Linked DNA regions of Homo sapiens. The protein of the gene in region 4 interacts with the protein of the main gene of each other region in a biochemical or structural test. Each region holds a gene or a part of one and is shown on either strand. Other genes may lie near its edges.

The links.
Region 1: the proteins of NRIP1 (region 4) and RARA form a complex in vitro, tested with the Homo sapiens proteins (4 studies listed by BioGRID).
Region 2: the proteins of NRIP1 (region 4) and THRA form a complex in vitro, tested with the Homo sapiens proteins (4 studies listed by BioGRID).
Region 3: the proteins of NRIP1 (region 4) and NR5A1 form a complex in vitro, tested with the Homo sapiens proteins (2 studies listed by BioGRID).

Annotation. Positions count from the first base shown.
Region 1 is NC_000017.11:40,346,882-40,354,813, reverse strand, and holds part of RARA (retinoic acid receptor alpha), read right to left. Parts: intron 6,499-7,932; coding exon 6,350-6,498; intron 5,031-6,349; coding exon 4,889-5,030; intron 2,905-4,888; coding exon 2,744-2,904; intron 2,484-2,743; coding exon 2,307-2,483; intron 513-2,306; coding exon 308-512; intron 1-307. UniProt on the Homo sapiens protein: Receptor for retinoic acid. Retinoic acid receptors bind as heterodimers to their target response elements in response to their ligands, all-trans or 9-cis retinoic acid, and regulate gene expression in various biological processes.
Region 2 is NC_000017.11:40,058,365-40,066,326, forward strand, and holds the start of THRA (thyroid hormone receptor alpha), read left to right. Parts: upstream 1-4,600; 5' UTR 4,601-4,728; intron 4,729-7,962.
Region 3 is NC_000009.12:124,496,485-124,504,416, forward strand, and holds part of NR5A1 (steroidogenic factor 1), read right to left. Parts: intron 6,927-7,932; 5' UTR 6,912-6,926; coding exon 6,810-6,911; intron 6,737-6,809; coding exon 6,595-6,736; intron 4,232-6,594; coding exon 3,606-4,231; intron 1-3,605. UniProt on the Homo sapiens protein: Transcriptional activator. Essential for sexual differentiation and formation of the primary steroidogenic tissues. Binds to the Ad4 site found in the promoter region of steroidogenic P450 genes such as CYP11A, CYP11B and CYP21B.
Region 4 is NC_000021.9:14,963,375-14,971,306, forward strand, and holds part of NRIP1 (nuclear receptor-interacting protein 1), read right to left. Parts: intron 5,153-7,932; 5' UTR 4,819-5,152; coding exon 1,342-4,818; 3' UTR 1-1,341. UniProt on the Homo sapiens protein: Modulates transcriptional activation by steroid receptors such as NR3C1, NR3C2 and ESR1. Also modulates transcriptional repression by nuclear hormone receptors.

The DNA.
Region 1 (7,932 bases), on a different chromosome or scaffold from region 4:
CCCCCACTGTACAGAAACGGAGGCCCAGAGAAGTTCAGCAACCTGCTCAGGGTCATGCATCGGCCAGGAGGTGACCCTGGTTGGTCCGACCCTCAAACCCTCACTCTTAACCTCCCTAGAAGGGGTGTTGCCCAGAAATCGGGAACAGGAGTCCAGGCCCCACATGGCCCCCTTGCTGTGTAGTTGCAGACCAGACCCTGCCCTCTAGAGATACCTAACAGAGGTGGCCTGAAAGAGCTCCCTGGAAGAGACTCCAGGGCTGCACCCCCGTCCCAGCCCAGCCCCCAGACCCAGGCCCCCTGCCCACCTCCGCAGATGAGGCAGATGGCGCTGAGCAGCCCCGTCTCCGCATCATCCATCTCCAGGGGCAGCAGCTGGTTGGCGAAGGCAAAGACCAGGTCGGTGAGGGGGCCGAAGCCAGCGTTGTGCATCTGGGTCCGGTTCAGGGTCAGCCCGTCCGAGAAGGTCATGGTGTCCTGCTCGGGCGTGTACCGCGTGCAGATCCGCAGGATCTGGGTGCAGAGGATGCTTGGGTTCAGGGACTGAACCCGAACCCACTCTGAGCACTCGGCACCAGCACTCCGCACCAGCACTCCCGGAGGACCACCTGGCAGGTGGCCGGAGCAATGCTGTCTGATAGAATTTTCTACAATGATGGAAAGGTTCTACGTCTGCACCATCCATACCTCAGCCACCAGCCACATGCGTCTACTGAGTACTTGAAATGTGGCTAATGCAACTGAGGAACTGAATTGAGTTTAATTTTAATTAATTTAAATTTAAAGAGTCACATGTGGTGAGCAGCTACTGTACTGGATAGTGCAGGTCCAGGTCATCCTGCCTACATGCAAAGAATGTAGAGGGGACCTAGAATTTCTAGGAGCTAAGGAACACTGGGCTGCTGCCTACAGCTCCCAGGATGAGGTACACAACAAGCGCTCAGTAAATGTGTATTGGCTTGAATGTGGTTGCAGGAACCCAGACGGCACCTCCTGCATCCACGGCATGGGGATGGGAGCCCCTGCAGGCAGCACAATCTAAACCTCCCACCCATCACCCGCCTCAACATTCAGAGGTGCCCATGGAGAAATGACAGTCTGCCGGCTCACGCGGGAGGATCACCTGAGGTCAGGAGTTCGAGACCGGCCTGGCCAACATGGTGAAACCCCGTCTCTACAAAAATACAAAAATTAGCCGGGTGTGGTGGCGGGTGCCTGTAATCCCAGCTACTCAGGAGGCTGAGGCAGGAGAATCGCTTGAACCCGGGAGGCAGCAGTTGCAGGCTGCAGTGAGCCAAGATCATACTACTGCACTCCAGCCTGGGTGACAAGAGTGAAACTCCATCTCAAAAAAGAAAAACATAAAAAGAAATGACAGTCTCGTCAAATCCCAGGTTCCCCACCCTGGAGGTGACCAAGAGGGAACAGGTGGACCGAGCCCTTGTCAGGGACAGCAGGAAGGAGAGTGCTCCCTCCAGCCTAGGCTTTGGCAGTTCCCACCACCTCTTCCTGCCCCCACCCCCTGCATCCAGCCTCCAGCCCAGTCTACCCTCGGGCTCACCTCACCGAGTGCCCGGCAGTCCCCTGAGCTCAGCATGGCCTCACAGCAGCAAGTCTTTCACTTCCTGCTCCTGAGTTAGGGCTACCCTCTCACCTCCCCCTCTACAAACCCCTAGATGTCACCTCCTCTGAGACATCATCCTTCAGGCCCAAGCAGTCACAAGCCCTCCCCCAATCTCCAGGAAGCATTGATCACAGTTTTGCAACCTCTGTTGACTTATCTCTTGCCTCACATGGAAGGTTTTCAAGAGAGGGGATGGTGGTGCATTCACCGCTGGGTTCCTGACACCCAGCTCGAACACTGGCCAGAGGATCCTAGGTGAATCTTTTTAGTTTTTTGCAGAAATAAGGTCTCACTATGTTGCCCAGGGTGGTCTTGAACTTCCAGCCTCAAGTGATCCTCCTGCCTCGCTCGGCCTCCCAAAGTGCTGGGATTACAGGTATGAGCCACTGCACCTGGCTCCTACGTGAATCTTTATTACTGGCTAAATGGATGGATGGCTGGGTGGCTGGATATGTGTATGGGTGAACAGGTGAGCTCCTGCACATCTGGCTGCTAGGTGGCTGAGTGGACAGGGAGACGAGTGGACAGGTGGACATATGGGGAGAGGAAGGGCAGACATTTGGGCGGTGGGCATTTGGACAGGTTGATTGCAGACAGACATTTAGGAGGGTGGCTGTCTGGCTGGAAGGACATCTACCCAGGACACAGGGGCAGTGCCTGGGGGCCAGGGTGCAGACCCTCACCAGGATGTCCAGGCAGGCAGCCTTGAGGAGGGTGATCTGGTCGGCGATGGTGAGGGTGGTGAAGCCGGGCAGCTGCTTGGCGAACTCCACAGTCTTAATGATGCACTTGGTGGAGAGTTCACTGAACTTGTCCCAGAGGTCAATGTCCAGAGAGACACGTTGTTCTGAGCTGTTGTTCTGGGGGAGGAGGGAGAGTGAGGGCCTTCTTCTCCATGGCACCCCTTCTCAGCCTGGCTCCAGCCCCCACAGGCCTGCCCTCTACCCAGCCTTCACTTCCTGGGAGCTCCTTGGGAAGAGGCAGCAGGAGGAGGGAGAAGAGAGGGGAAGGGAAGGACGCAGAGATCTTGCCTGGCACAAGAAGGGGTGCCTGAGAGGGGCCCATCCTGGCCCTGTGGCCCTGGGCAAATCCCACCCTGCAGGCCGGGGGAAAGCCATACCGTAGTGTATTTGCCCAGCTGGCAGAGGGCAGGGAAGGTTTCCTGGTGCGCTTTGCGCACCTTCTCAATGAGCTCCCCCACCTCCGGCGTCAGCGTGTAGCTCTCAGAGCACTCGGGCTTGGGCACCTCCTTCTTCTTCTTGTTTCGGTCGTTTCTCACAGCTGTGGAGGGCAGAGGGGGTTAAGAGGGCAGCTGCAGGCTGCTCAGGGCCTCGTCCACCCCCAGCCTGACAGAGAGCTGCCAGCTGCTGAGGAGGTCACCCAGGCTTGTAAGCACGCGCACACAGCACGCGTTCACGGGCAGGCAAGGCATTGCCACGCACTCCAGCCCTCCATGCCCACCCAACCCACACATCAAGTTCTGCCCCAGAAGCCCCATGAGCACAGCTGTGGCCCTGCACACACCCCCCACCCCACCCCATAGCCAGCCGCATGCTATCCCCCACGCGTCTACTCCAGCTCACACTCCAGGCGACGGTGCCCTCCTAGGTGCTCTGCCTCCTCTTTCCCCAGGAAGGTCCTTCTCCCGCCTCCACTCACCCAGCCCTCCCAGCTGCAGTCTCCCTGGGGGTCCCTTGGGACTGGCTCTGAGCAGCTCCTGGGGCAAGTGGGGAGTAGGGCTCCCCAGCCTGAGAGTGGGGGACCTGGCGGGGAGAATCTCTTGGCCCATTAGCTGGGGAGCTGACAAATCACCAGGGGCGCTGAGCCGCACACACCACTCGGCTTTAAAGAAGCGATGGGGTCGTTACCAGCCGATTATCCAGACACACAATCACTCACAGGGCTGGTGGTGGTGGCTGCTGACGCGGGAGGAAGGGAGGGTGGGGGAGGGGCTCAGGGAGGGGGTAGCGAGGTGGGGGTAGCTGGCATAATTTGGAGATCACTCATGTCGATTCTGCAAATTCAATAAAGTGCAGGGGAGAGAAGGGAGAGGGAGAGGGAGAGTGGGGGGATAATTTGGGAAGAGAAAATTGCAGCTGTGACAAGACGTTTATCATTCGGAAGCTTTAATTCTATTGAAATGGCAGCTGCTCAGCTCCGGGGCACAGAGCAGCCGGGAGAGGGGGAGTTGGCGGTGGGAGGGAGAAGGGGAGTTGGCGGTGGGAGGGAGAAGGGGTCCCCTCCCTGGTCCTTCTGCCATGAAAAGAGCAGAAGGTGGCACAAACAGAGAGGAGGAGGTGACAGCCCTTAAGCGAAGGGTTCCAGGCTTGTGGGTCTTGAGTTGTCACCCACTCTTGCAGCAGGAGCCACTTCCTGGGCTCAGGACAAGGCACCCCCAGCCTCCTGTGGCAGGACACTCCAGTCCCCTCCATTCCTGTCTGGGGCTCTTCGTGCAACAGTCAGAACCATCTCACCCGTGCCCCCTCCCCACTGCCCTCCCCACAAAGGGCTAGGGGGTCCTGCAGCCCCCTCCCCCATCCCATCCCCCAAGGCTCAGGCTCCATGGCAACGGCCACGCAGACAAGGAGGCGTCTGTCAGCGTCATTTATCTCTGACATCATCAATCACCGGTCACCATGGCAACACCCATGATTCAACACAAGAGGGTCTCCCTGTCCAGCCTTTCCCTCCCTCCCTCCATCAGGCCTCAGCTGAGCCCAAAGTGGAAACCCCGTTTCCTCTGGGATCTGAGAAGTCCCAATTCTTTCTTCCAACTCTGAATCCCAGGCTTAACTAGACAATGGCTTTTGGATCCTTGTGCCAGCCCTTCCACCCCCCCATACACACATAAGTCCAGCCAAGCACCCCTCAGAATTCAAGCCCCTCCCCTAAGACTCACAATCAGAAGGGACTGCCTATGCCTCTGAGCCCCACCCCAAAACCAAGCACGGCCTGGAAGAAAGCCATCCTGGAGCATGCACACACACACACATACGCAAGCACACACAGCCAGACGTGCAGAAACAGGAATGGTTACACATACACGGTCCCGGAGCACAGACCTGCCCGTGGACACACAGCCAGCCAGACTCGCAAACAGGTCCTTGCAGCTACACACAAACCATCCTCAACCGTGAGCCCGCACACCACGGCATGCGTGTTCATGCATGTGCACAAACATCCACAGAGCCCTGCTCCCTTGGTCTTTAGGAGCATCTGAGACCCCAACTGAGGCGGGACTCGGCCCCTGCCCTATGGCACTCACACTCCTTGGACATGCCCACTTCAAAGCACTTCTGCAGTCGGCAGTACTGGCAGCGGTTCCGGGTCACCTTGTTGATGATGCAGTTCTTGTCCCGGTGACACGTGTACACCATGTTCTTCTGGATGCTGCGGCGGAAGAAGCCCTGGGTATGGAGGGGAGGGAGTCAGGTTGTCCACACCCACAGTGGGAGCAGTGCCTGGCTACGGTCTCAGTCTAGGGGAGGAGGGCCAGGCCAGCTGCTGCCCCCAAGCGTTTGCCCATCGCCTACCTGAGCAGGCCAGAAAAGCTGGGGAGAATGATTCACCTAAAAGGATCCTCCTCAGGAGAATCCCAGTACCTGCCTCAACACTGCAGGATGGGCAGGAGTCTTCCCCCAACCCACAGCACACACCTGACTCCTCCCTTCCAGGGAAAAGACCTCAGGGCTGCTGGTGAGTCAGAAATAGGAAGACATGGGGCTAACTGGGCAACAGCCAGGGATCTGGAACCCACACCCCTGAACTCAGAACACAGGAAAAGAAGACAAGCCCGAAGAGGCCAGGAGGCAGATACACGGGCTGGCCAGAGAAATGGAGGCGAACACACACATGCACTCAGGAGCAAGGCAGAAAGATGTGAGTTCACCAAGACAGGTGTGCACCGACCCATCACAGACACAGACCCAGGCTGGCCAGGGGCTCCACATACAGGCTGACCAGAGGGACAGGCGGACAGAGGAAGAACAGACCAGGAACAACCAGACAGGACAGGCAGACACACAGCCTGAGTCCTTGTGCTTTGCCCTTGACCTCCGTCCCACATCTGGGGATAGCTACTCCAGGCTGAAGAGCAGCCCAGAGCTGCAAGGCCCAAAGCTGTGAAGATTCTGAGCCCCAATCTCTGGAGGAAGAAACGCACACAGAGGCTCAGGCCCCAGGGAAAGGAGGAGAAGCCGGGCGCAGGGCTGCTAAGGACCAGGTATACCTGCACCCTGGCACCTAACGTGAGGATGGGGAAATCCAGCCAGACACTGGGGAGCCCACAGCCCGGGCACCTGAAGGGGAAGCTAAGGCAGGGTGCCTGCTCCTAACTGCCTCCTGCCAGGCTGCCATGGTGAGGTTCAGGCAGGGCCGCCGGGGGAGGCCTCCTGGGTCCCCAGCCAAGAGCCAGTCGGCAGCCAGCTCACCATGGCAACCTGGGCAGCGGTGGCAGAGCAGGCGTACGCCCTGCCAGCTGGAGGATAGAGACAGGGAAAGGAGCTGAGGCAGGAGGGGACCTCTGGTTTGAGGGAGCCCTGCACATTTATGGGGGAGGACCTGTGGGGAAACTGTGGTAGGTGTCCCTGCTTGCTGCCAACTTCCACAGAGAAAGAAGAGCAGCAACTTCAGGGACACCCCCCAACTGCACACTCCCAGGACACAGAAGTGGGGACATCCCATTGACCTCATCAAGCTGTCCTTCCCAATGACCCCTTCAACTCACCTTGCAGCCCTCACAGGCGCTGACCCCATAGTGGTAGCCTGAGGACTTGTCCTGACAGACAAAGCAAGGCTTGTAGATGCGGGGTAGAGGGGGTGGCGAGGGAGGGCTGGGCACTATCTCTTCAGAACTGCTGCTCTGGGTCTCAATGGCTAGAGAGAGAAGAGGGGAGGGGCAGTTAGAGACCTAGGTCGCCATCCTTAGTACCAAGCTCCACCCTGCCTCACCGTCCCTCCTAAGAGCCTCTCCCAGCCTCACCACTGCTGGCAGGATTCAAGTCTTAAGAAAACTGGGACTCCCCAGCCAGACTCAGGGCAGGAGGCTGCCAATGAAGCCTCCAGCACCCCATCACTCCTCTGGACTCCTAGGACCCCCACCTTCAAAACCACAAAGATACAATGATAAACCATCACATTTGTATGTGTGCCGTGACTGTGCTTGGGGAGTAGGGGTGGGGGTCACCCTGATTCTAAAGCTCTTGCCCCTGGGCGGCCTGGCCCCGTTCTCCCCCCGAGTTAGGAAGGAGTTAACGCTTGAAGAGGAGGGAGGGAAGAGGACATAAGCTGGGGGCAGAGGAAACTGGGGTCAACAGGATATTCAAAGCCGGCCACTCCCCCGCCCCCTCTGCTTCCGCTCCCCCCTCCACCCCATTCTGCCAGCAGCCACTGCCCCTCCTCCACCCAAACAATCCCAGGGCCAGGGACCCAAGGCAGGGGGTGCAAAGAAGAGTCACAAATGCTGGGCACAGTAGGAGGTGTCTCCCTGAGATAGGGGGAGATACCCTGAATACAGGGAGAAGAGTCCCCAGGGCCCCAAAAGCCCATTATTCTGGGTACCCCCCATCTGGGGAGAGATGGCATGACAAAGGGGGTCTGTTCCCATCAATGCTCTGTCTGTCTGGCCTCAATACTATGTCCGGGTTACTAACCCCTCCCCTTCTGTTATTCAGCTCCAAGAGGGCAGCCAGGAGGGGTGACCCAGACAGCAGGGGCAGCCCTCACTGGCCAAATCCTCCCCAGTGTCTGGCTCCATGCCCATCACTGTAGGCAGAACAGGGCTGGGTTGGGTAGGGGCTATCCATGTCCAAAGCCTGGGCAGCTAAGGGTGTTGGGTGCAAGATAAGAACTATGACCAGGACAATCCCAGATTCCCAAGGGGCCACGCAGCATCGTCCTGAGGCCCCTACCAACGTTCAAGTTCTCTTGTCCAGGGCCAAGGATGGATGAGGATGCCTCCCTAGGTAGACAGATCCCTGCCTCCTCCCATATTCCACAATCCTACCTAGCCCTACCCCAAACTCCGGCACATGAGACTGGCTGGCATTTAAAGGTGCCCACAGCTCCTGGCCCAAGCACCTTACAGACATGAGTCACATAGCCCCAAATCACATGGCCCTAAAATTGGGGCACAGAGGAAGGAAGCATGGGAACACCAGGGGCTGACTATGTGCTACCACCCTCCCCCCTTACCTGCAGACACAGTGGGGGCTGCTAGGCGGCTGATGACAGGGAACTAGGCCAACAACCTTGGCAGGGCTTTCCTGGCTCTTAGTAGTGCCTGGGCACCACTTCCCAGGCCAGCCTGGC
Region 2 (7,962 bases), on a different chromosome or scaffold from region 4:
CCTTTGTATGGCCCCTCCCTCCAGGCCCTGAGAGCTGCTCTGCTTTATACTTTTGGCTTCCATATCATACTACCCTATCCCCTCCTTTAACTGGAGTGGGAGAACTGCGGAAAGGTAAGCCCCAAACTCTGATGGTAAAGGAGACTTCCCTGCTCCCCCTCCTCTCCTCTCTCCTGCTGGCAAAGATAGGATGAGAAGACTCTAAGGGAAAGTGAAACCAGAAGCTGGGAGCATTTGGGGAATCTAATACTTGGCACATATTAAATGCTTAAAAAAAAAAAGTGTCAGGCTGGGTGCGGTGGCTCACGCCTGTAATTCCAGCACTTTGGGAGGCCGAGGCAGGCGGATCATGAGGTCAGGAGATCGAGACCATCCTGGTTAACACAGTGAAAGCCCGTCTCTACTAAAAATACAAAAATTAGCCAGGCATTGTGGTGGGTGCCTGTAGTCCCCGCTACTCGGGAGGCTTAGGCAGGAGAATGGTGTTAACCCGGGAGGCAAGCTTTCAGTGAGCCAAGATCACACCACTGCACTCCAGCCTGGGTGACAGAGCAAGACTCCATCAGGAAAAAACAAACAAACAAAAAAAAAAAACAGTGTCAGATTAATGAATAAAATTAGGAGAAACCCTGAAAGACAGCCTGGAAAAGGTGTCAGCTTCCTTTTCCATTTCTCACCTCAGCTACCAAAAGCAAGACTCAGCCAGGCCTGGTCCCTTCCCTGGCTCCCTCTTTTGTGACCCATAGCAATAGCGCCTGATGGGACAAAGGGGAGAATTAAGTGGCCACTTTCTCTTACCAGGTAATTGCTAATTTGCCAGTCTCTCATCTCCTGCATCAGCCTCCCAAGTAGCCAGAACTGAAGGTCTGCACCACAACACCCAGATAATTTGTGGGTTTTTGTTTTTGGTTTTTTTTTTTTTTGAGATGGAGGTCTCACTATGTTGCCCAGGATGGTCTTGAACTCATGACCTGAAGAGATCCTCCCACCTCAGCCTCCCAAAATACTGGTGATGTCAGTCAGCCACCTTGCCCAGCCTGCTCTCCAACTTTCTTTCCTCCATTTGCACCACTCTTTCTGATTGGGAAACCCCTAGGAGGGAGAAACATCTGAGCTTTGAGTTCTCTTGGCTGGTAGTACCTCAGTTTCCTCTGCTGTCTTTCCAGAGCACCCCCAATAAGTTCAGCTCTGTCTGCAGAGTCTAGAGGTATATGCTGGACATGTCATCACTTGCTGACCTAGGGTCCAAGAGGTCAAGATGAGATAGAGGAAGGGATTTACTGAGGCCCAGGCCACAGAGCTTGTTCCATGGTGGCTGGTAGAGGGGCCTATCTCCTGTTTCCCCAAACTGCTAGAGATGTGTAAGGCTTTTGAGCAGGGGTAGAGGATGCTGTGTGGAGTTTTAGCTGCCAGACTTTGAAAAAAACCTCTTCAGAAAGATATCTGGATACCTTGGTTCCTAGGGGTCGTATCCTCAAGAAATCTTAGGGTGCTTCCTAGCAACAGTCTGGAAGGAAGGGAGGGAGAGATGGAGGGAGAGAGGGAGGGGCCTAGGCATGGCTGTTCTGATGGGAGCCCAGAGAACAGGCTGTTCCTGCTACCTCCTTAGCAACGGAAATCTCAGCTGGAGGGGCCATCAGACATATCCTCTTGGAGGGTCTATCCAGCCTTATTCATGCCACCCCTACCCTCCTCATAGATTCGGGGAATGCTCTGAAGCAGAGGTGGGGAATGGGAGGGGACAGCCCTGGTGGTGGTGGGGGGTTTCATGACAAGGACGGAAAAGGAGCTGAGGATGAACTCAATCTGAGAAGAGCTAGCAGCTTCAAGAAATGGGTGGGCAGGGTGAGTGGGGTGGGAGGACAGATGAGGCAACACAGGGACAGTGGCTATACGCCCAGACACGGGCTGGATCCTGGCACCTGGGGAGAGGCCTGCTTTGAAAGCAGTGTGCCCTTCACTTTGCCCTGCCCAGACCTGTCACCAGTCCATACTGGGAGCCCAAGAAAAAGAGAGAGGTAAAAAGAAGATGGGGGTGGCCGGGGACGGTGGTTCATGCCTGTAATCCCAGCACTTTGGGAGGCCAAGGCAGGAGGAGCACTTGAGGCCAGGAGTTCAAGACTAGCCTGGCCAACATGGTGAAACCCCTTCTCTACCAAAAAAACAAAACAAAACAAAGCAAAAAAACAAAAATTAGCTGGGCATGCTAGCACATGCCTACAATCCCCGCTACTTGGGAGGCTAGGACATGAAAATCCCTTGAACCCAGGAGACGGAGGTTGCAGTGAGCCAAGATTGTGCCACTGCACTCCAGCCTGGGCAAAAGAGCAAGACCCTGTCTCAAATAATAATAATAATAATAAATTTTAAGAAGGAGAAGATGGGACTGGTAAACCCTTGTCTTTGAGTGCTCCACTCTGCCCCTCAGGAAAAAAAAAAAGTGGAACAGGAGGCACTTCATTTTCTATGGCTCTGGGTTTAGGATTTCAGAAAGTCGTCACCACCCAACATTATAGGGCCTTGCATCAAAGAGAGATATGGTGGGGAAAGCCAGAATGGAAGAGAGACAAAACCGTAGCACCTTCCTCCTCCCCCTCTGGACACCATCACTCCTGCCCTGATCCAGATTACCGCTGGCCCTCCCCACTGCCTCCTAGTTCTGCCTTTGTGATGCAGAGTATAAATGTATCTCATGCATTGGGATTCCCTCCCAGCTCCTTGAGCAGCCCAATCCCAAGGGACTAGTTCCATACAGGGTAGAGTACAGACCCTGAGCACTACATACTGCAGCCTTGCTCCCCAGGGTTCCGGCCAAACCTGATCACCGAGGAGGTGGCATCGACTGGCAGACAGCCACCCTCAGTGCACCTCATTCCACTCACTGCACTGACTCTGCACACTGCAGCCTCCTGCCCCACACTGCAGCTGTTGCTTGTCTCCTGTGAGCCCAGACTGAACACAGGTTCGCTTACTGCATGGAGGCTCCGTACGCTGCAGCCTCAATTCCCCATTACAGCTGCCACTGCACACCACAGGCTCCCTTCACCCATGGCATGCCCTCAACACCACCACTGCACTCTGCACGCCATAGGTTTCATCCCAGCTGCTCTTCTCATCTCCATGGTTCCAGGGACCCCAAGAGAGGTACCCTCCCCTCCGCCAAGCATTACGAACTCCAGTACCCCCTGTGAAAGAAGTGGTTCCAACAGCACTGAGGATGCAGGTGGCTGAGACTAAGACATGAGCAAGGGCAGCCCAACTTGGGTAAGCTGTGGCTCAGAATCCCACACTCGCCAAGTGACTCTGCCCAGTATAAACTGGGCGATTAGCCGAGCAGCTCCCCCTAACACACACACACTTACACACACACACACTCACACACACACCCCTCCCCAAGAGCAGACTATGTAGCCAGGGCCCCACCCTGAGAGCCGTGGGAAGGCTGTGGCCCCCGCTGGTAAAACTGGGCTAATGACAGCAGGGGAACCGGCGGGGCCAGGGGGGTGCTGGGGTAATTAGGGCTCGGCCTGGCGCTAGGAGATCCTGAGATGAAAGGTGCTCTGGCGTCACTGGGTTGGTTTTATGTCCATGAATGCAGGTGTGTGGTGTGTGTATGTGTGTGCTGGGGGTGGGGCTGGCATGGTGGAGACCTCTCCTTTGGGTTGGGTTAGGGGGTCCATTTGTATGCAGCCCACCGTCTTCCTTAGATTGACTCTGGTACCATTTGGATTTTTGTGGGAGCAAACATGGGGGGAAATACCACCACCCGGGAGCTAGGAATTGAGGGGGTATGGCAGATCTTGTCCCCTCCCCGAGCTCAGGAGAGGGAGCAGATTGTTGGGGGAAATGGCTGGTGACAGAGAATAGAAAGAGCCTATATGGAGAAGGGTGACGTTGGAAAAGGGAGGCAGTGGATCGGTATTGATGTTAGAAATGAGAGGGGAGGGAGGTAACAGGGAATGAACCCCCACAAGGATGAAAAACGTAAGATGATTGAAGTTAAAAGGACATCAGGGGTCACCTGCCCAGCCCTCGCAGCTGAAGCTTGAGGAAGCTCTGCCCCCGACAGCAGTGGCGATTTGTCAAGGTCACACAGTGAGTTACCGGCGGAGAAGGGACCCGAACTCCCAAACAAACTACACCTGCAAGCGTTTGGTGTTTAGACTTTCTCCCCGATGTATAAGGTGCAGGCTGCTCGTCGATACTTCCTCCTCCACCCTCACGGTGCACACCCGAAAACCCCCCAATTCTCCCGGCAAGCAAAGGCTATTTTTTAATGACATCTTTTCCAAAATATGTCACCAAGTACCCACTCCTGCGGGAGCCGCCCGGGCTGGGGAGGGCGAGTCCGAGCGGGGCGGGGCAGAGGCGGCCGAGGGGCGGCCGGACCTCTGGCGGGGGTCCCGGGGCGCGGCAGGGGGCGGGGGGCGGGGGCGGGCGGCGGCGAGGCGGCCTGCAGGGAGCAGCCGCGAGCCGGCCGGGCGCGCCGAGCCCGAGCCCCAGCCGGAGCGGGGCGGGGGAGGGAGGAGCCAGAGCGGCCGCCGCCTCTGCCGGAGGAGCCGCGGGGCCGCCACACTCGCCCCCCGCCCCCCCCGCGCTCACTCGCACTCACACCCGGGCGCAGGAGGCGGGCGGCCCGGGCCCCACCGGCCCCCCATGGACGCCCCCAGCACGGGGCGCTGAGACCCCCGCGTCGCTGCCCAGCCCGGTCCGGCGCGCCACGCCGAGGTAAGGAGGAGGGAGCGAGGGGGCATTAATATGCAAATGCCTTGCGATTGATTATGCAAAGCCGCGGGGCTCCGTGGCCAGCTCCCAGGCGGGCTAGGGGCGCCCAGGGGGTGCCTGCTGCCAGCCTCAGCCTTTCCTGGCGCCCCAGTGACCCTGTCACGAGCCCGGGAGCTTGCAACTGACGCCCTGGGGAAGGGAGGTGTTGCTAGGAGGTCGCTGGGCCCCGGGGTTCGCAGGCGGAGATGGCGTCCGAGCCTCCCCCTGGAGGGCCCGCCCGGCCTCTGTCCGGCCAGTCTGCTGCGCATTCCCGGGCCGGGCCCCGTTGCCGGCCGCCGGAGCTCCCCCGCCCGCCGCGCCGCGGTTTGTTTACGGTGCGCCGGAGGCCTGCCCCCCCAGCCCCCACCCCTAGCCTCTGAGGCCCGAGTGGCCTTTGCAAAGCTGCCTCCAGCTGCGGAGGGCAGTATGAGTGCGGTGGCGCGGGTGGGCTTGCACGGGTCCGGGGAGAGGGAAGTTCCCCCGCCTCACCCGCCTCCCGGTTGAGCATGGCTGTCTGGTTGCAACACTGCTAATTGCAAAAACGCGGTTGTTGGGGGGGAATGTGTGTGTGGAAGGGGTGTACTTGGTGGTGCCTAGATGATTAGGAGAGTTGCTGGCTGGGGAGGAGAGGGAGAAATGGACCTGTGTGTGTGTACCCCACCTTGTTTCCCTCCCCTTGCAACGTGTCTCTGGTGCCCCTTCTCCATCTGGGGCCCTCCCTTGTCCAGCGTGAAAGAAAGGCCTGGGGGGATGACAGGGGCAATTGAAAGAACCACCGTTCCAGGGGTGGGGGTGGGGGACACAGAAGGAAAGCCAGTGAGGTGGGAGCCTGCCCCTCAGTGCTGGCTTTGGCTCCAGGAGGGGGAGGGGATGAAGGGGGCTGTTGTCCAAAATGAGGGGGGAAGCAAAAGTGACACGCAGACACAGAGATATGTCCACACAGACAGCCACATGCACATCCAGGGACACCCAGGCAGACTCAAGGACAGGAGCTACTGGACACACCCACATGGGGACAAGGGAAGAGACAGGCTGCTGCTGCACCGTGGAGCTCTGAGGGGTGGGATATACCCATGGGAGACCAAGAGCATGGGGACCGATCCATGCACATACCCACGCACAGGGTCACACGTAGATGCTGTCACACACTGGGGCAAGGAGGAGTTGCTGTCACCCACACATAAAAAGTCACTGTCACATGCATGCATGCACACAGAGCAATTGCACACAGCAGCACAATTACAAAAGACCCTGTCACTCACAGGCACACACGTGCTCGCATGAGCCCAGTCACACAGACATCATTGCTTGCCGTGACAGTCGCTGTCACTCAGTCAGATGCAAACACAGTTACACACCAACACATGTATACACAACTTAGCAACAAGTATTTTCCTGGACTCTTTACTGTGGAGCTCTGAGGTTCTGTAGGCAACAAAACCCTTGCTCCCAAGAATATTAAATTTGGCTGTATGAAAAAGTGTTCCTGCGTAATGGTGTAAAGCATGCATTCCCAATGACATGTTCTTGGTCTCTATCGCTTGAGATACCACCCTACTAGACAGTGAGCTCTTGGAGACCTGGGAGAATCACTTAAAGAGCTCTGGATCCCACGCAGAGCCTAGCACAAGGGCTGCTCTGTAAATACTTGTTAGTTGATTGACTGTGGAACCTGCAGACACAGGTGCACTCATTTGCACATGGTCCCCTGAACTCAGGTGCAGAATGAGTTCACAAGGCCCAGGTCCCCACAGTTGCAGGTCCACACCAACAGTCGTGTCCACACAACCCCAGATACACACAACTGCAGCCTGTGCAGCCGAGCACACACTTAGATGCACACAATCACAAATTTTTCCCCTTCAGCTTCCTCCTCCCCTTTTTCCTCTAGGCTCAGCCACTGTGCGGGAATGGGCTGTTTTTTTTTTCTTTCTTTCTTTTAGAGGGACAGAGAAACAAGAGCAAAGACAGTGGGTTCAGGGGGGTTCCAGAGGGCCGAGTCATGGGCTCAAAGCAGTGTCCAGTGACTTCTAGAAGCTAGGATTCTCTTGACTGTTGGGGAAGGGGAGAGCTGCTCTCCTCCCTACCCTAAAAGCTCAGGGGTGTCTAACTGCCCCTGCTCTGAGTCATTTGCCTGGGTCTTTCCTGGGAACAGTCAGTCACTTCCAGCTGAGTTCCTGCGCCCCACCTTGAGTCTGGCCCTTTTTCCCACCTGTACCCTCCTGTCCAAACTTGGAAGCTTTCCTTAAGAGGCCATCGGCTGGCGAGTGTCTGTGTGAGTGATATGTACTTTTGACTTGGAATTTCTCTCTAACTCTGTCTCTCTGTTGCTCTGTCTTGCAGTGTCTGATTCTCCCTCTCTCTCTCCTTGTTTCTCTGCCAGTCTGTAACTCTCTCTCACCCTGTTGCTACCCCCGATCTACCCCTGTCCTTGTCTCAGAGCTGGGGACTGGCAGCAATGTTCTTCATACTTTTCCAGTTGTTAATACCCAAGCTCCGCCCCTCTGCCCCCCCTGCGCAGCCTCTGGGGTCAGCTTGAGGTTGGGGTGGGGGGCGGGGGGCTCAGCTGGCTGCTCAGGACTTCCTGCACTTCCTTAGTGCCGCAGCTGTGGCCAGCAAGTTTTAGGGGCTGGGAATGGGGGAAGGGGGGGGGGGTCAGCCACTGCCCATGCTGACCCCTCGGGCCTGCATGTCTGGAGACACCAGTTCTGTGGGCACCCTCAGGGTGCAGGCTGCAGCCAGCTAGCAGCTCTTAAACAAGCCATGAAGAGGCTCCCCCCACACTGGCCCAAGCTGGAAAAGAACCGCCCCCATGGGCAGTGGCGGGAGCTGGCAGGACCCTGCTGAGTTGGGTCCACTGCAGGGCTCACAATGGCCTTTCTCCACACCCCTGGCAGCTGAGGCCCACCTCAGAGATGCCCAACAGCTGTGTCCTTTTTGCCCAGCCTCAGGGCCTGGTTCTGAGGGCACAGCTGCCTAGACTAAGTATGTACTAAGCGAGGCCCTCCCACCCGTGAGTGCAGGTTCCAGCCTAGAAGGGGTACCTCTTCTGGAGAGGGAATTTGAGGAGGGGGAACTCAGGCAGGAGACATCGAGCCCGGGGGCACCAAGCACTTCTCGCTATGCTCCCCTCTAGCCTTGGACTATTTGGAGGTGGAGGCACTTGGCAGAGAACCCACAGGGCAGCTACAGAGGGGA
Region 3 (7,932 bases), on a different chromosome or scaffold from region 4:
GGAGCCTTGACGCTCTGCAGGCTGCCTCAGAGACCCGGTATTTATGGGTGCCAAGCTGACCTCCCTCCCAGCAGGGCCCCTCTGGAGCCCCCTGGGGTCCGATTGGTCTGGCTGTGAAGGCCGGTGGGCTGTGTAATTCTCTGGTGGCTGACACACCACGGGCTGGCCACTGCGCTCTGCCGGCAGAGTGGTCAGTGAGGTGTCATTTGTCAGCCCAGGACTGACAGTTACTGCCGCTTAAATGAAACCGTCTATCTGGGCAGTTAAATCTGCTGTCAGTGGGGGCCTCGGAGCTGGATGTTGAGGGTGAACGGATGTCAAAATGGGTCACTGGGCACTCCTGGCCCCCACCGTCCCCCCGGGTCCTCCCTTGCATCCTCCCAGCCTGTCCTTCGCAGTAAGTGACGAGAGGCTGACTGCCTGGGCCCTGGGCACTGCTGCCCACCAAGCAGCAGGTACAGGTGAGTTTCTTCCACCTCACAGGGAAAAAGTTGCTTTATAAGCGCAGGACAAAGTGACCCTCAGACGGTCCCAGAACAATCGTGTGCTCAGAGGAGCTTGGGTCCAATGTGTCTCTCCCTGCTGCCTCCCCGCCAAGGCCTGCATAAGCCTGCAGGCGTCGATTAAACAGTGTAGCTAAGGGGAAGAGAGGAAGGGTGCTGCGACCCCACTTCCGAAACTGCCCGCGCTCAGTTCTTCCCCTGTCCTTACTCACTAACCCTTTACCACAATCCAATGGGGTGGACATTATTTCAACTCCTCCCATTTTCAAGACGAGGAAACTGAGGCCCGGAGGAGTGAAGTCACTTGCCCAAAATCATACAGCATGTAAGTGACAGAGCTGGAACTTGACAACAGGCCTCTCTGATTCTAGTCTTTGATATTCACTTCTGTGCTACTATCGAATCTACCATGCTGGGATTGGTGTGAGATGGAAACATGGAGACGGAGGGACCCCCATACCAGCTGGGAAAGAAGATGGGGGAGGAAGACCCCAAGAGGGCATTTGGAGCTCAGCATCGGACACAACTGGGCCCCTGGCACCCCTGAGAGCTCAGCTGAGACTCCAGGACTCCTCCCGAGCAGCAAGATGTCATCAGCATCAGAGGGCTGAGTGGGCCTCTGCTCAGAGCCCAAGCTCTGTCAGGGGAGCCCCTCCCTGACCCGGAACCTGGAGCCCCAGCCAGCCCCGCAGCCATCCATCACCCACTGCCCAAGGACCCACTCCTGCTCCAGGCTCTGCTCTGGCCCTGCCAACCTCTCCAGCCCTGCTTCACAGGCCCATTGGAACTCCCGGAACACGATGCCTCTTCACATTTCGGGACCTTCGCCTCTGCTGTGCCCACTGCCTGGAATTCCCTGAACCTTCTCTACTTTCTAGAAAGGCACAGAACTGTTCTCCGACTTCCTTAGTTAGAGCTGTTTGCTCTCCCCCCAGGGTCCCCTCTGCCCCTTCCGTGGCTCTCAGAGCCCTGGGCACCTCGCACTGGCATTATCTAAGTGCATGTCTGACTTCTCCTCCAGGCTGGCAGCTTCCTGGGTCCAGATGATTTTAATGTCCCCAGTGTCCAGCCCAAGGGCTGCTCCACTCTCAGAGCCAGAGAGCCCCCTCTTCTGTCTGCTAAGATGTGTCCTGTCTGGAGGTGGGGAAATGAATGATCAGCTAGAAGAGACGCCGGAGTCACCCACACCCCTCCCACTTTTCTGTCTCCTCACCTCTGGACTTTGCAAAGAGACACCAGCCCAGGGTCCACTGGACCAGTGGAAAAGAACTTCCACATGGCTTACGAGAGGCGCTCTAAGGGCTGGGCTGGTACTTATCTGCAAGGCCCCTTTAGAGAAGCTGGTGACCACTGCTCATAATCCCGGGCTCAATTCAAAGACTTTGAGAAGGGGAAGCAGGAAGGTTTGGACCACGGAGAAGCCAGAAGCAGGAAAAAACACTCAGCAAAGCTGGGACAAAAGCCCTTCCCATCCTGCGTGAAAATCCCCGGGAGACTAGGAAGGCAGCCAGAGGAAGTGCCCTGCCCCTCAATCCAGGGTTCTGGAAGGCCGGGAATGCCCTGCTCCTCCTCCCCTCTGCACGGGGGGTGCATGGGAAGTCTGGAGGGAAGCTAGCAACCAACCCAAGATGCTTGGGGTCCTCATCCCCACCAGGGCCTCCAGCCATGAGCAGAAGGCAGGTGGGAGTATTCAAGACCCTGCCTTTTGCCTCATCCATTAGGTCGGACCAGAGAGGCGGGCAGTGTTGAGAAGGGGCTGGGGTGAGAAACCCACCCCATGACAGACACATGGTACATCCCCAGGCCTCAGCCATGACAGGCGCTCCACGGTGGAAGCCGTAGCCACCACCATCAATCCTCGACTCCCAGATGGCCCAGGCCCCAGTCCCGCGATGCCCCTAGGGCTCGGAGCACCCACCCCCACCTACCAGCCAGGGCAGGCAGTGCCCCCAGCCCATCCGGCCTCATGCCCCTGGAGGAAGCCCAGGCCCGAGTGGCGTCAGCATTGACAATGCTGCTCAAGGCTGCAGTGGCCCCAGCAGTGGGGGCAACGGGCCCTGCTGTTTACACCCAGCCCCAGAACAGCCAGGGGGTCAGCCTGGGAAAGCTAAACACCAATAGCCCTGGGTGAAAGAGTGCCTGAACCCAGGCCAGGGAGGGGCAGGCCTTGGTCAGCTGGAGGGGCCTCTAGGGAGGTCTCAGAGAGCCAGGGCACTGGAGGGGCAGTTCTGGGGCCTCAGGCTCTTCAAGCCACTAGGTGGGAAGACTGGGAAGTTCTTTCCTATGTCTAGCCTCAGTTTCTCCTGCTGCTTTCCTGATTACTGTAGCATCAGGTACCTCGACCCAGGGGGAAAGAAGGCCATGCCATAGAGGAAGGCTGCCTCGCCAGGGAAGATCAGTGGCAGACCCTGGAATCCCCCACCCACCTACCTATCTAGCTTCCTGAACACCCACACACATGCACATGACCATCCAGCATACGCAAGATTTGCAGAGGCAGGAGGATCTTTCACCTTAGCTGGGAAGGAGAATGGCCCACAAATGCCCCAAACTCTAAAACACTAAGAGCCCCCATCTGTGTGTGACACTGCCAATCCTTGCCAGCCTCCCTGAATGGGAGGACAGGATGGGCCGGACCCCCTTCCCAACACTAGGCTGAAGCCTGGGGAGGCAAGACAGTCTCCCAAGGACTCAGCTAGTCCTTTGAGGGAGCCCAGGGTCTCAGAGAATGAGGGAAATGAGTACTGAGAGAGCCCCAGAATAGGGAACCCCAGAGGCTGAAGGGGTTGCAGAGACACCAAGAAGCAGAGAGACAACATGCAAGGGAGAGACACAGTAGGAAGAGACAGAGGCAGAGATCAAAGCAGCAGTGGCTCCTTGAGCAGAGGCTCAAGGAGGAGAGAAGGAGAGGGAGGGAGCGGGGACCCAGGAGGCTGTGATAAGTGGAAATGCTCCTTAATGTCCCCAGGGTGGCCTCCGGGTCCCCAGGTACTGCCTGAAGCCAGTGGGAAGGATGGCCCTATCCAAAGGACAGTCGGGCTAAGGCTTGGGCAGCCGGGAGGACCATGATGCAGGGCCAGCCGGGCGGGAGGAGAGACTCACCTCCAGCTCCTTGAAGACCATGCACCTGCGTGCCCAGTCCACGATGGAGATGAAGGTCTGGTCGGCCATTCTGCACAGGAGGCCGAAGGCCGCCGGCTGGTCGGGGCGGCTTTTGGTGGGCTCCTGCAGGCAGCCCAAGATGCGGGCCCGCACCTGGTCCTCATCCGGCTCCAGCTGCAGCAGCTGCAGGATGAGCTCAGGCACGTTGGGCCCTCCAGAGAAGGGCTCTGGGTAGCCGTACGGCAGCCCAGGCTGTGGGGGGCTGGCATAAGGCTCCGGGTACTCAGACTTGATGGCACGGCCAGGAAAGGCAGGGTAGAGGTAGCCAGCCAGTGGCCCGTGGGCACCGGGCACGGCCATGGGCAGTGCTGGGGCCCCAAAGTCGCCCAGTGGCCCAGCAGGTGGACCGGCGGCCAGGCCCTTGGGCTCAGGCCCATGCAGGCTGGGAGGCAGCACGTAGTCCGGTGCGGGAGGGGGCGGCGGGGGCACCCCCATCGGGGGCCCTGTCTCCAGCTTGAAGCCATTGGCCCGAATCTGTGCCTTCTTCTGCTGTTTCAGGGCCCGGTCCCGCTTGTACATCGGCCCAAACTTGTTCCGGCCACCCCTCATACGGTCAGCGCGCACGGCTGTGGGCAGGGGCAGAGGGTCAGACTCACCCTCTCTAAGCCCCCTTCCATGCTGCCCCACCACAGATCCTTTCCAAACAAATCTGACCGCTCTCTCCCCTGCTCAACACCCTTTCATGGCTCCCACTGACCACAGGGGAAGTCAGTCTCCTTTGCCTGGCATTCAAGGCCCTGCTCAGCTTTTCAGGCAATCCCTGCTAAGACCCCTCTCCTTCCACTCCACCGAACTCACCTCCACTCCTCTGTTTGACACATCTCCTTCCTCCTCCACCCTGCCTTTCATTTTCCTTCTGACTCAAACTTTTTTTTTTCTCTTGTGCTTGCTGAACACCCAGCCTCAATGTCACTACTTCCAGGAAGCACTCCTGGATTCATGCAAACGGGCTCTACTGTCCTTGCCCCAGGTGCCCTGTCCTTGCCCACTCTTATCATGCTGAGTGGATCATGCCATGTGCTCCTGCGGGCTAAGTTCTGGGCTCAGGTGTCTAGCATAAGGCCTGGCAGGGAGATGGTGACCGGAAGGGGACCCTGGTCAGCCTTGTTCACCGCTGGCCCCAGGGTCCAGCTGTTTGTTGACTGACTGCCTGACTGTTGAGCTCCTGCTTCAAAATGACTCAAGTATCCTTCACTGGCTGCGAATGTGAAGCCAAGTTTAGAGCTGGCCAAGGCTCTATGCTGGGGGAGGGGACCTCTCTTGCCGACTAGAAGCTCCTCCGCCTGGCGAGGAATGTGTCATCAGCCAGACCCAACAGGTACATCTCTGCAGCTGGAGTGTGCCCCCCGCCCCTGCTCAGACAGGGCCCCACCCTGGGATCTGGGCGAGGGGAAAGAGCAGGAGAGAGGGGGTGGTGGTGCTCAGCAGGGATGATGGCTGGGGGGCTGCCTGGCCAATCTTCCTGCCCCCTGGGGTGGGCAGCGCTGTGCTGCTCGCAGGCTGCACGGGAGTTTCTACTGCCCACAACAGCCAGCTATCTGGCCCCTTGGGACCTGGCACTAGGGGCATGGGCTCTGGGGACAGGACAGGATGTCCCCTCTCCCATCCAGGAGTCCTTTCTCCAGGTGGCAGGGCATGTGGTCCACCACTCTCAGAGCCACCTGGGGCTTTCTACACTGTTCCAAGACCTTAATCAACCACTGCCTGTTCAGCACACAGTCCAGTGACCGGCCACCTCCAGAAGCTCAAATCTTTCCTGCCAAAACTTACCTCCTCCTCTCTGGGCTGAGAGCTGGGGTTGAGGGTAGGGAGGCAAAGAGGGGCCTGGGTTTCTTGGGGGCAATTCAATTGTCCCCCACTGCCCGGCCCCCTCAGGGCCTGGCTAAGAACATGACGGGAAGGAATCTCACTGGCTGAGCCAATAAACCAGAGAGCCCTTTGGATGGACGGACAGACAAGCAGATGGGCAGCTGAATGTGTGGGGGCTGGGCGGTGGTGGTGGGCAGATCCTAATGGAAAGCGTGATGGGCTTGACAGCTAACCTGCGGCAATGAACGCCTAGGCACCTTCAGCTTGCCTGCACCGATCCCCACACTCACTCACTGGAGGAAGGCGCTGCCGTTAAGCCCATTTTTCTTTTCTTTCTTTCTCTTTCTGCCTTTTCTTTTCTTTCTTTTTTATTTTTATGTACTTATTTTTTGAGACAGGGTTTCCCTCTCGCCCAGGCTGGAGTGGAGTGGTGTGATCATAGCTCACTGCAGCCTCGACTTTCCAGGCTCAAGTGATCCCCCCACCTCAGCCTCCTGAGTAGCTAGGACTACAGGCACATGTCACCACGCCCAGCTACTTTTTTATATTTTATAGATACAAGGTTTCTCCATGTTGCCCAGGCTGGTCTTAAACTTCTGGGCTCAAGTGATCCTCTTGCCTCAGCCTCCCAAATGCTGGAATTACAGGCATGAGCCGCTCCATCCGGCCAAGCCCATGTTTCACATGGGAAATCTGCGGTTTAGAGAGGTTAAGGATTTTGCCCAATGTCACCCAGCCTGACTGACAGTGCGGGCACTGGGACTTGGCCTCTGCTGGCTGGGGTTGGGTATTTTGGGGGCATGGGGACCTCCTCACAGAGGGAGGAGCTCTGCCGACCCTGTGCTGGGGCCCTGGCAGGGGCTGGGGAAAGAGTCATCTCCATAGGGTTCACTTTTGGATACTTCTCAGCCCAACCCAGGCTGGCCTTGCCAGCGTCCCTTCCCCGCCCGAGGCCCACCCAGCGCCAGCGCCCGGTTCTCTTGCAGCGACTGGGCCCTAATGTCGCACGAGGGGCCTTCGCGAAGGCCAATGGTACTATCCCCTCAGCCCCTCTCCCACCCCCACCCCCTACCCCCTCAGGCTGTGGGGGGTCAGGGGTCGAGGCCCGCGCGGCGCGCACCTTCCAGGCGCATCCCCACCGTCAGGCATTTCTGGAAGCGGCAGAAGGGACAGCGCTTGCGCTGCGTCTTGTCGATCTTGCAGCTCTGGCTCTCGGTGCACGTGTAGTGCTTGTTGTTCTGCACCGTGCGCTTGAAGAAGCCCTGCGGGAGCTGAGAGTCAGCGAGGCCCCGCAGCGCCCGTCTGCCGCACCCCTGCCGCGCGCTCGCCGCTCACCTTGCAGCTCTCACACGTGAGCAGTCCGTAGTGGTAGCCGGACACCTTGTCCCCGCACACGGGGCACAGCTCGTCCAGGTCCTCGTCGTACGAATAGTCCATGCCCGCGGCGTCCGCCTGCGGAGGGACAGCGGGTCAGGGAGGGCCGGCGGAGACCGGCAGCCTGGGGTCCCCGCGGCCGCCGCCCCAGCCGCTGTCGCCGGCCCGTCGCGTAATCCCCTCTCTGTGCCCAGGCGCTGCCGCCGGCACCCACCGAGCGCCCCGCGCAGCGTCCCGGGGTGGGTCCGGTGCAGTCCCCGCGCCCGGCCTTCCCCTGCCAGGCCCCACGCTCCCGCCCCGTCCGGGGGGCTCCTCCCGCGCGGACCCCGTCGCGCCCGATCTGGGGCCCTCGGGTTCGATGCGCTTCGATTGGGATTCGTTTGTCTGAGAACAAAACCCCGATTCTGAGAAAAAGAGATGGGCTCAGCCGCGGGGAAGACGCCAGGGGACCCAGGAGCGCTGGGGCGCCCGGCCCGGGTGTTCTGGGAACCCGACAGAGACGAAGGAGGCAGAGACAGAGTCCGGGGGAGCCAGAGATGGGAAGAAACTCTGGCGAGAGACAACGACCGACGCCACCGGGCGCAGACACGAGGCCAGTCCGAGAGTGCCAGAGACACAGACACTGAGACGCCCAGCTAGAGAGAACCCGGCGGGGACGAGACACAGGGAGGGATGGAGAGAGACAGGGAGACAGAGAGAGAGAGAGAGAGAGAGAGAGACGAGAGAGAGAGAGAGAGAGAGAAACGAGGGGTGGGGGATTGGATCAGAGACTCGGAGAGACAGCGGAGGCCCGAAGAGAAAACCCAAGAGAGACTGACGCAGAGCCAGAGACACAACGATAGACGACAGACAGAGACGCCGAGACGAGAGGAGCCCCGGAGAGACGAGGCCGGGGAGCTACAGAAACACGGAGAGAAAACCTGGAGGCGGAAGCGCCCAGCCCGAGGGTCGGGGACAGGGGACGCGCGGAAACCTGCCGGGCAGGAGCCCAAGCGCCAAGGCGAGGCCCCGCAGGGTCGGACCCAGACGGGGGCCCGGGCCGCAGGAGGCGGAAAACGACGGCGCCGGGACCGAGAGCCCGAAA
Region 4 (7,932 bases):
GAACACACAAATAATCACAGATTTTCCTGAGATGTTGAGCCAGATATGAAAGTTATCCCCTCCACCCAATTTTTGTCATAAAAAGTGTTCTGAACCCGATTTCCAAAGACATAACGGTAATATATGAACTACAATATTGCAAATTTTGAGCTGATGTGTGACTGTATTGGGGAAAATAGAGGCATCACATAGTTTTTTGTTTTTGTTTTACAGTCTCATGTTCTGAGGAAAGTCATAAGTCATGGTTCTCAAACACAAGAAACACCTAGAGAGCATGTTAAGATGCAGATGGAAGATTCCAGGTCCACTTAGCAGAGATTCTTGTTCTGTAGATCTGAGATGCTGCCTATGAATCTGCATTTTAAAACAAGTGCTCCAGATGGTTCTAATGCAAGTGGTCTGAGTTCAGGTTTAAGGAATCCTGGTCATAACACTCGCAGGTACCACAGGAATGGTGAGAATTAACTTTTACAAGAGATGGTGAAAACTGTCCAAAGAAAAGCCATTTTGCTTCTGTTAAAAACAATTTCTTAAATATTCAACTTTTCAGGAAACCACCTAAAGATAAATGTTAACTTTTCTAATTCTGTAAAAGGAGGAGTATTAATTTAGTAAAGTAGTTAAAATACAAAAAATGGAAATCTGCCTTTTTTTTAAAGGATCTATCAAACTTCCCTCAATTGTAATCAATTTTTACTAAGTAGCACAAGGTTTAAAGAAATATATATTGAAAAGGATCAGGGTGGGACAGACACATTGGGAACCACAAAACCTCTTCCAAGAGTTAAAAATAAACACCTTTTTTTTTTCTTTTTAGCAAAAGTGAAAAATGTAAGCATATATTTTTCTAATTTATTTTTGAATTGGATAATAAGCTGTGAATCAGCACTAGGTTTTTTTTTATTGGATAATTATCCTTTAAAGAGTTGTTTAACAGTTTAGACTTTAAAAATGTGTTATGTAGGCTGACTTCTGAAAAGCAAAATAAAGTACCCTAATAAAGGCAGCAAAATGCATTAATCCACTATGAATGGAGTTTTACATTTTAATTTATGCCTAATATTTATAAAAGAATTTCATTCATAGGCTACTCACAGTTGTTATCTGATGCATACAGAAGTGTTAAACAACCAATTGCTAGTTCAGTAGTTTCCTCATGACATCTAATGTTAAGCAAAAATTAGTATGCATATTTCAACATCACCAGTAACCAATACTTTTCAAAATGAAAAAAGTTTCAATTATACCATGCTTTTTTTCAAATCATGCTCTTATTTATACAGATCTCAAGTTCATACTCATTAGTTTTAAAAAGATCCAAAACTGGATGGCAGGTACATTTTATTCTGATTCTTTCTTTATCGTTAGCACGCTTCCCAGAAGTCCATAAACTTCTCCATTTGCGCTGTGTGGGCGAGAAGCATTATTTCCCATATGGCTATTGTAAGGGCTTCTTAAATTAAAGAAAGAAGCTTTCGTTTCTGCAGTAGGAAGTAACTCTTCTTTGGCTGTGACCTGTGAGACACTTTCAGCAGATGAAGCCTCCCTCCAAATGTCCTTGTCTTGTGTTTCTCGACTGGTAACAGAATTGCCTCCTTTTTGAAGCATGTAATATAGTATTGGGTTGGTTTTGGTCAATCTTGGAGAGTCTTTTTCATACTCATTCTTCTCCGCATCAGTGATAACCCACTTAATGGGTCCTTTCTCACTGGGCATGGAACACCCATTCAAAAGCCCAGATTCTGGTCTAGACCCTGCACAGCCCAAGTGCTCAGGGAAAGTAGGACTCACAGGAGTTTTTACTACACCTGGGTATGAAAATGTCCTGTTATCCATGCAACTGCTGGGCTGAGTGGAACTGTACATCAGTCCATTTAAAGAAGAAATGCTAAATTCAGGTTTGCTGTTGGTCACATTATTTTTGTGTCCTTTCTTTTTACTGTCAGCCACAGAGTTACTTCTGTGCGGGGACAAATCTCGCACACAGTTTTCTGAGAGAAGCAGCTGTTTCAGAACATTAAAGCTTTTGCTCTCTCTGGCCCAACTCCTGTGTTCACTTTCGCTGGCTGAGCCATGACCAGCAGGATATTTAAATTCAAGATCATTTCTGCTAAATTTCAGCTCTTCCTGGTTAAGCAAGGACCCATACAGTACTTCTGGGGCACTGTGATTGTTTGCAGCATCAACAATGTTGTTTTTCATCTTTTTAAATGGATTTTCTAATGGCTCAGTATAAAGCTTCCTTTTCTTAGGGACCATGCAAAGATTCTTTGATTCTAGAAGTGCCATTTCATTATTTCTGTGACTCCTGTCTGAATCATCTGCCAGGTAACTATCTTGATTTTGTCTTAGCAATCGACTTAGCAGACCATTCTTGGAGAAAGAAAAATCCTGAGGTGAAACAGGCTCCGATTTAAAGTCTTCGGACACTGGTAAGGCAGGTGCGCTTCTCTGCACAGCAGGAGCCATACCCAAGAATGGGGCACTCTTAGCATCATGGCTCAAGTGCACATTTGTGTTAGGAATTTGTAAGTCATCACAAGGCTCAGATTTTATTTTCACCATCAGTATTTGTTCACTTAAAGCTCTCTCTGAGTGTTCCTGAGTACTTTCATCTCTTAAGGGAGTTTTCTCTTTTTTTTCACTCTTCCCTTTGTTGGGGTTCCCCAGGAGCAACTGGAGGACAGTACGTCTTTCAAGCAGATTTTCTATTTCAGAACCAGAAAGCCCTGGTTCAGGACCTGTTGGTTGACTACTAAATGCTTTATTTTCTTCAACTGCATTTGTTTTATTTGAGAGCAAAGGGCTATTTAATCTATCAATCATACCTATCGGTTTATCTGTGTTTCCAGTTAACAGCTGTTTGCTGGGTCTCTGCTCTTCCACTGACATGGATGACTGCATTCCACATTGTGCTAAATTTTGTAACAGCTTACTGGCACTAAACGTTGCAGAGTTCTGTGCACCTTCATTTTGGGCTGGTTTCTCTCCTGGTGGGTCTTTGCTTTTTGTAAGGTCCATTGAGTGGTTAGATGCAGTATTTGTTAGCTTTTCAGACTGAGTACTGCAGACATATGGTGGGGAATTCCATTTGATGACCAGAGAGTGTTGAGAGAGATTGATGGGAGACCCTGCTTTGCTTGATGTAAGTAAAGGTGGAGTGCTCACTGGAGTAGTCCGATTTGTACTGGGGCTTTCTATCACAGAAGTCCTTGCATAATTTTGTGTATTGAACTTGCTCACATCATTGTGTACTCCCTGAGGGCTGGTGTTTTTTTCTACATTTTCTTCATTCTTATGGCCAAGTAGCAATTGAAGAAGTGTTACTTTCTGGTGTGAGTTTAGCTTAGAATTCTTTGAGGTATCTTGATCTTCTTTGATATCTACATCTGGGACTTTTGGATCCCAAGTGTTTAGCAAGGATTGAGTGAAGTTATCCAGGGAAACAGGTTGGTCAGATTCTGATTTTTCAGTTCGGTGTTTGCAAGACAAGTCTATGGGAACACAGTTGGAATAAGAACTTTCATCACCACTGCTGTCATCTGTAAAACTAGGATTGTTATCTGAATATTCATCAATAGTTGTAGGTGTACTACTTTCCTCAAAAATGCTTCCTCTCTCACTGTGACTGTGTCCATTCATTGGCTTAGGTATAGTCTGGCTTTTAAGAAGATGTAAAAGCAAACTATTGTTAGCAGCTTGTTTTATATTGTTTCTTTCCAGTGAGTTCTTATAACCTGCATTTTTAGGGGAAGAAGGAATGATACCCATTGGATTTTGAAACACTGTAGCACTACTTTTGCTAGCCATCAGTTTGCTTGATGATGTTCTTGCCTGACCATTAAGATGGCTTGACATTCCTTTTGGGAGCTGGTAACTGCCAACATCCTTCTGGCCATTTTCTTGCAATCTGGCCATAGCAGCAAGTCTTTCACTTGCTGCTTGATTTGCATTTTGCGTTTTTAAAGCGTGTTCTCGAGAATACTGCTGCAAATGGGCTTCGCTTGACAGAAGTAATGCTAACTGGCTACAAGCAACACTAGGTTTAGGTGAGGTGGCAGGACTAGCCCTTTTTTCCACCATGCTTGCAACAGCCTGTAATCTTGCAGCACATGACAACGGTTCACTCATGACCTTTGTTCCACTTTGTCCAACATGATGAGGAGACTCTGCAAACCTATCTCTGATGAGGTTTTTAGTCACATCAGGAAGATTCGTATCAGGCTTTTGATCTTTAACTTTACTTTTCTTCAACAAAGTTTTTAAGTGACTTGATGCAACACCATAGCACCTTAAATCCTTCTCCACTTTTAAAGAATCATGACTGAGGGCATATCCTTGCTCCTTGAGGCTCTGCCTGATTTGTTGTGACAGAGCAACAGTCTGCAGCCTAGAGCTGAATGACTGAAGCAAAGAGGCCAGTAATGTGCTATCCTGTTTGCCTTTAGGCACACTGTCAACCATGCCAGCTAGCAAAGCTTCCTTCTTTACGTTTAAATTCATGATAGAATCAGACAGCCTCTTCCGCTTTGCTGCATTCCAGTCCTCAGAAGACTGCAACAGTCTGGCTTTTTTGAGGTGCAGCATGCCAGACCCCTGATATGTATGTGTATTGAGAACTGGACCATTACTTTGACAGGTGGGAAATGCACTGCCAGAAATGTTAAAGTTCTGATCCTCTTCATTATGCCCAGCAGACTTTTTGTCAACGGCAGTACCTGATCCCCCTGCTGCCTGATGCATTAGTAATCCTTCTAGGTAAGTTAAAACAATAGAATCCTGGTGCACATCAGAGCCAAGCTCTTCTCCATGAGTCATGTTCAATAGAAGTGTTCACAAGGGCTTGGTTTCTATTCACTTTAAAGAATGGTTTTCTGTGGTGAGTGCGATGTAACTTTAATAAAGGAGTATCAGTTTATCACCTTCCATCGCAATCAGAGAGAGACGTACTGTTACATTCTGTCCAAGATTTCTTCTGGCAATGACAAGATAAATGCAGTCTGACCACAGTGCTGATCAACTTCTACGCAAGGAGGAGGAGAAGAATTCCTTAACACATAGGTCTGTAGCAGTAAGCAGATAGAATCCTTAGTGAATATATTCCTTTTCCTTCTTCATCTTTTGTTCCCCATTAAATGCAAATATCAGTGTTCTAAAAAAAATAAAAATAAGAATAGTTAAGGAGGCAGAACTAGAATCACGTTATGATACCTACAAGCAAAATAATATAGCATCTGTAAATGTATATATATATTACATATAAATAATAGACATATAAATGGATTATAGTCACTTTAGTAATTTGTTTTATTGCCGTTCCTATTCAATTGAAAATGTCTACTGGAAATCCTGTGGGTTAATGCATACTGTTAAAATGATCAAATCATTAGAGAAGAGAACATACTTTAATGTTACATAGCCATCTTCCAAAGCCGCCAAGTCTCTGAATTTTCATAAGCACCTTTCTGCAAAGTAATGTGAATGTTCAGTCTCCTTTATAGCTTTATAGCTCTACAGGGGAACTAGAACTTGCTTCCTTACATTACTGGGCACTTAGGAAGAAACAAAAGTAGATGTGCAGAAAAAGGAAAAGAGATGCAGACTCTGATGAGTCTGATGTGGGGTTGAGGCCAACAGAACAGATTCATTTCTGACATCATCCCCCAAACACCAGACATTCCATAAGTAATTTTTAGAATTTCCGTTTTCAAAAAAATGAAACCACTAACAAGTTGAAGATTATTTTGTGAGTCTGTTCAAAGTGTGACCATCTTAATCATATTCATAAACATTAAAATACAGTCATAAACTTACCTACCCATACTTTTTACCATGACTTATTAAAGACAGAGAGGAGTGATTCTTTAGATGCTTGTTCAGGGCTATCAAGGGTTTAATGTAGTTCGTTAGTAAATCCTTACTCATGTGCTCTATGGAGAAGTCTTAATGTCAGGTCCATTCCTTACAGATACAGAAGACAGGGAGGGCATAAACATATATAAAAAGTACAATGGAGAATGCCAAAGACATTTTAGTCACAGTTTGAAAAATATTCCAATGATATTTATTATCTAAGAAGAGACCAAAAAATTTCCTATCACTAACACATACACAACAGAAGAAGCAAGAACTCATTGCATTTCTGAAAACTTGATAGGTAAGTGTCAAAATTGACCTAAGGAAGGGGGGCCATGACACCTTTGGAAGAGAAGCTGGAATAAATTCCATGCAGTTTGTTTTTCAAGATGCCAGAACATTTTGTTTAAGTTATCAGACCTGAAGCTATCAACAAATACCTTGGTCCCTATGGAATTTAAAAGATAAATTTTAATTGAAAGACTACCCTGTAGCTTTTTAAGTACAATGCTTAACTCTAAGTCAAACTTTAGGAAATAATTATCTGATTGTATCAAATTGTTGAATTTATTGATTAAAAGGATAAGAAATGATAGCCAAAGAAAAAGATACAGAAAGGAGGCAGCAACAATTAATTTCAACTGTGTAAGGAGTAGGATGAGAAGAGACTTTCTTGAGATTCCAATGCCACCATTTTAAGAAGCTTTGCCATAATGTACTTAAGATGGATATTTTAAGAGGTTAATAATGATATAGAAATGAAATGGTTATCATGACTGCCACCAAATATCCATTCTCCCATTTTCATTTACTAATAAAACCCTGACTTGTTTTTCAGGGAGTAGGGAGGTATCCCAGCTAAACACTACTTTTCTCCCCCCTCTGGTTATATTTTACAATTGATGGCATGTTGCTTAATTGGAGGCTTATTTTTCTTTCTTAGTGGTATAAAACATACGGGTACATTTTACAACTGATAACATCTTGGAGTTGAGGAAACCCAGTTTTCTAATTCTCTCAAAAAACTTAATATGGCCAGGTACGGTGGCTCACACCTGTAATCCCAGCAATTTAGGAGGCCGAGGTGGGTGGATCGCCTGAGGTCAGGAGTTTGAGACCAACCTGACCAAAATGGTGAAACCCCATCTCTAGTAAAAATACAAAAATTAGCCGGGTATGGTGGCATGCGCCTGTAGTCCCAGCTACTCAGGAGGCTGAGGCAGAAGAATTGCTTGAACCTGGTAGGCAGAGGTTGCAGTGAGCCGAGATCGTGCCACTGCACTCCAGCCTGGGTGACAGAATGACACTCTATCTCAAAACAAACAAAACAAAAATAACAACTGCTAATATACAATTAATTCTCAACTAGTTAAGACATTTAACAACCATTTAATGGGATATGCAAGTCCACTGTATTTCTCTCCACACCACTGCCAACCTTTTTGCTCTTGGGTAGACTCAAGAAAGTCAAAATCATACCAGTCATTTGAAAACTGGTTTGTAAACAGCCATAAAACATACTTTATTTAAGAATAAGAATGAAATAAGGAGCATCTTTGAGTTCATATTACTCCTGTTATTGCTTTCTACTTTTTACTGTGCATGATATAATTTGCAAAGTATTATTCATTGCTTTAAAAAGACTGAATTTACACATTTCTGAATTTACAAAGCAGATTTGGAAGTTGATTTAAAAAGGAATTATCACAGTTTCCTTGTAAAGGAGCTCTAACACTGTATTTTACCATTTATTTACCTCTCTACCATTTATTTCCTATCTTCACAGAGAAAGTAGATGACAGATATTAAGAATAATCATCTCTTAATAATCCATTTTTTGGCAATCAGCTTTCTCAGGTTGAAAATCATTTCTTACATATGAAAACAATTTTTAACTTCAAGAACGAAAATGACATATACAAATAATTTTATTAAGCTCCTTGGGTCTGAGGACTGTGCTAATTATAATTACTACAGTGCAACACAGTCAACAGATAACTGAACCTTGGGATACATTAAGTTATTCAATGACCAAATTCCCAGTAGGAAGGAAGGGAATTTGACATTCAAACACAC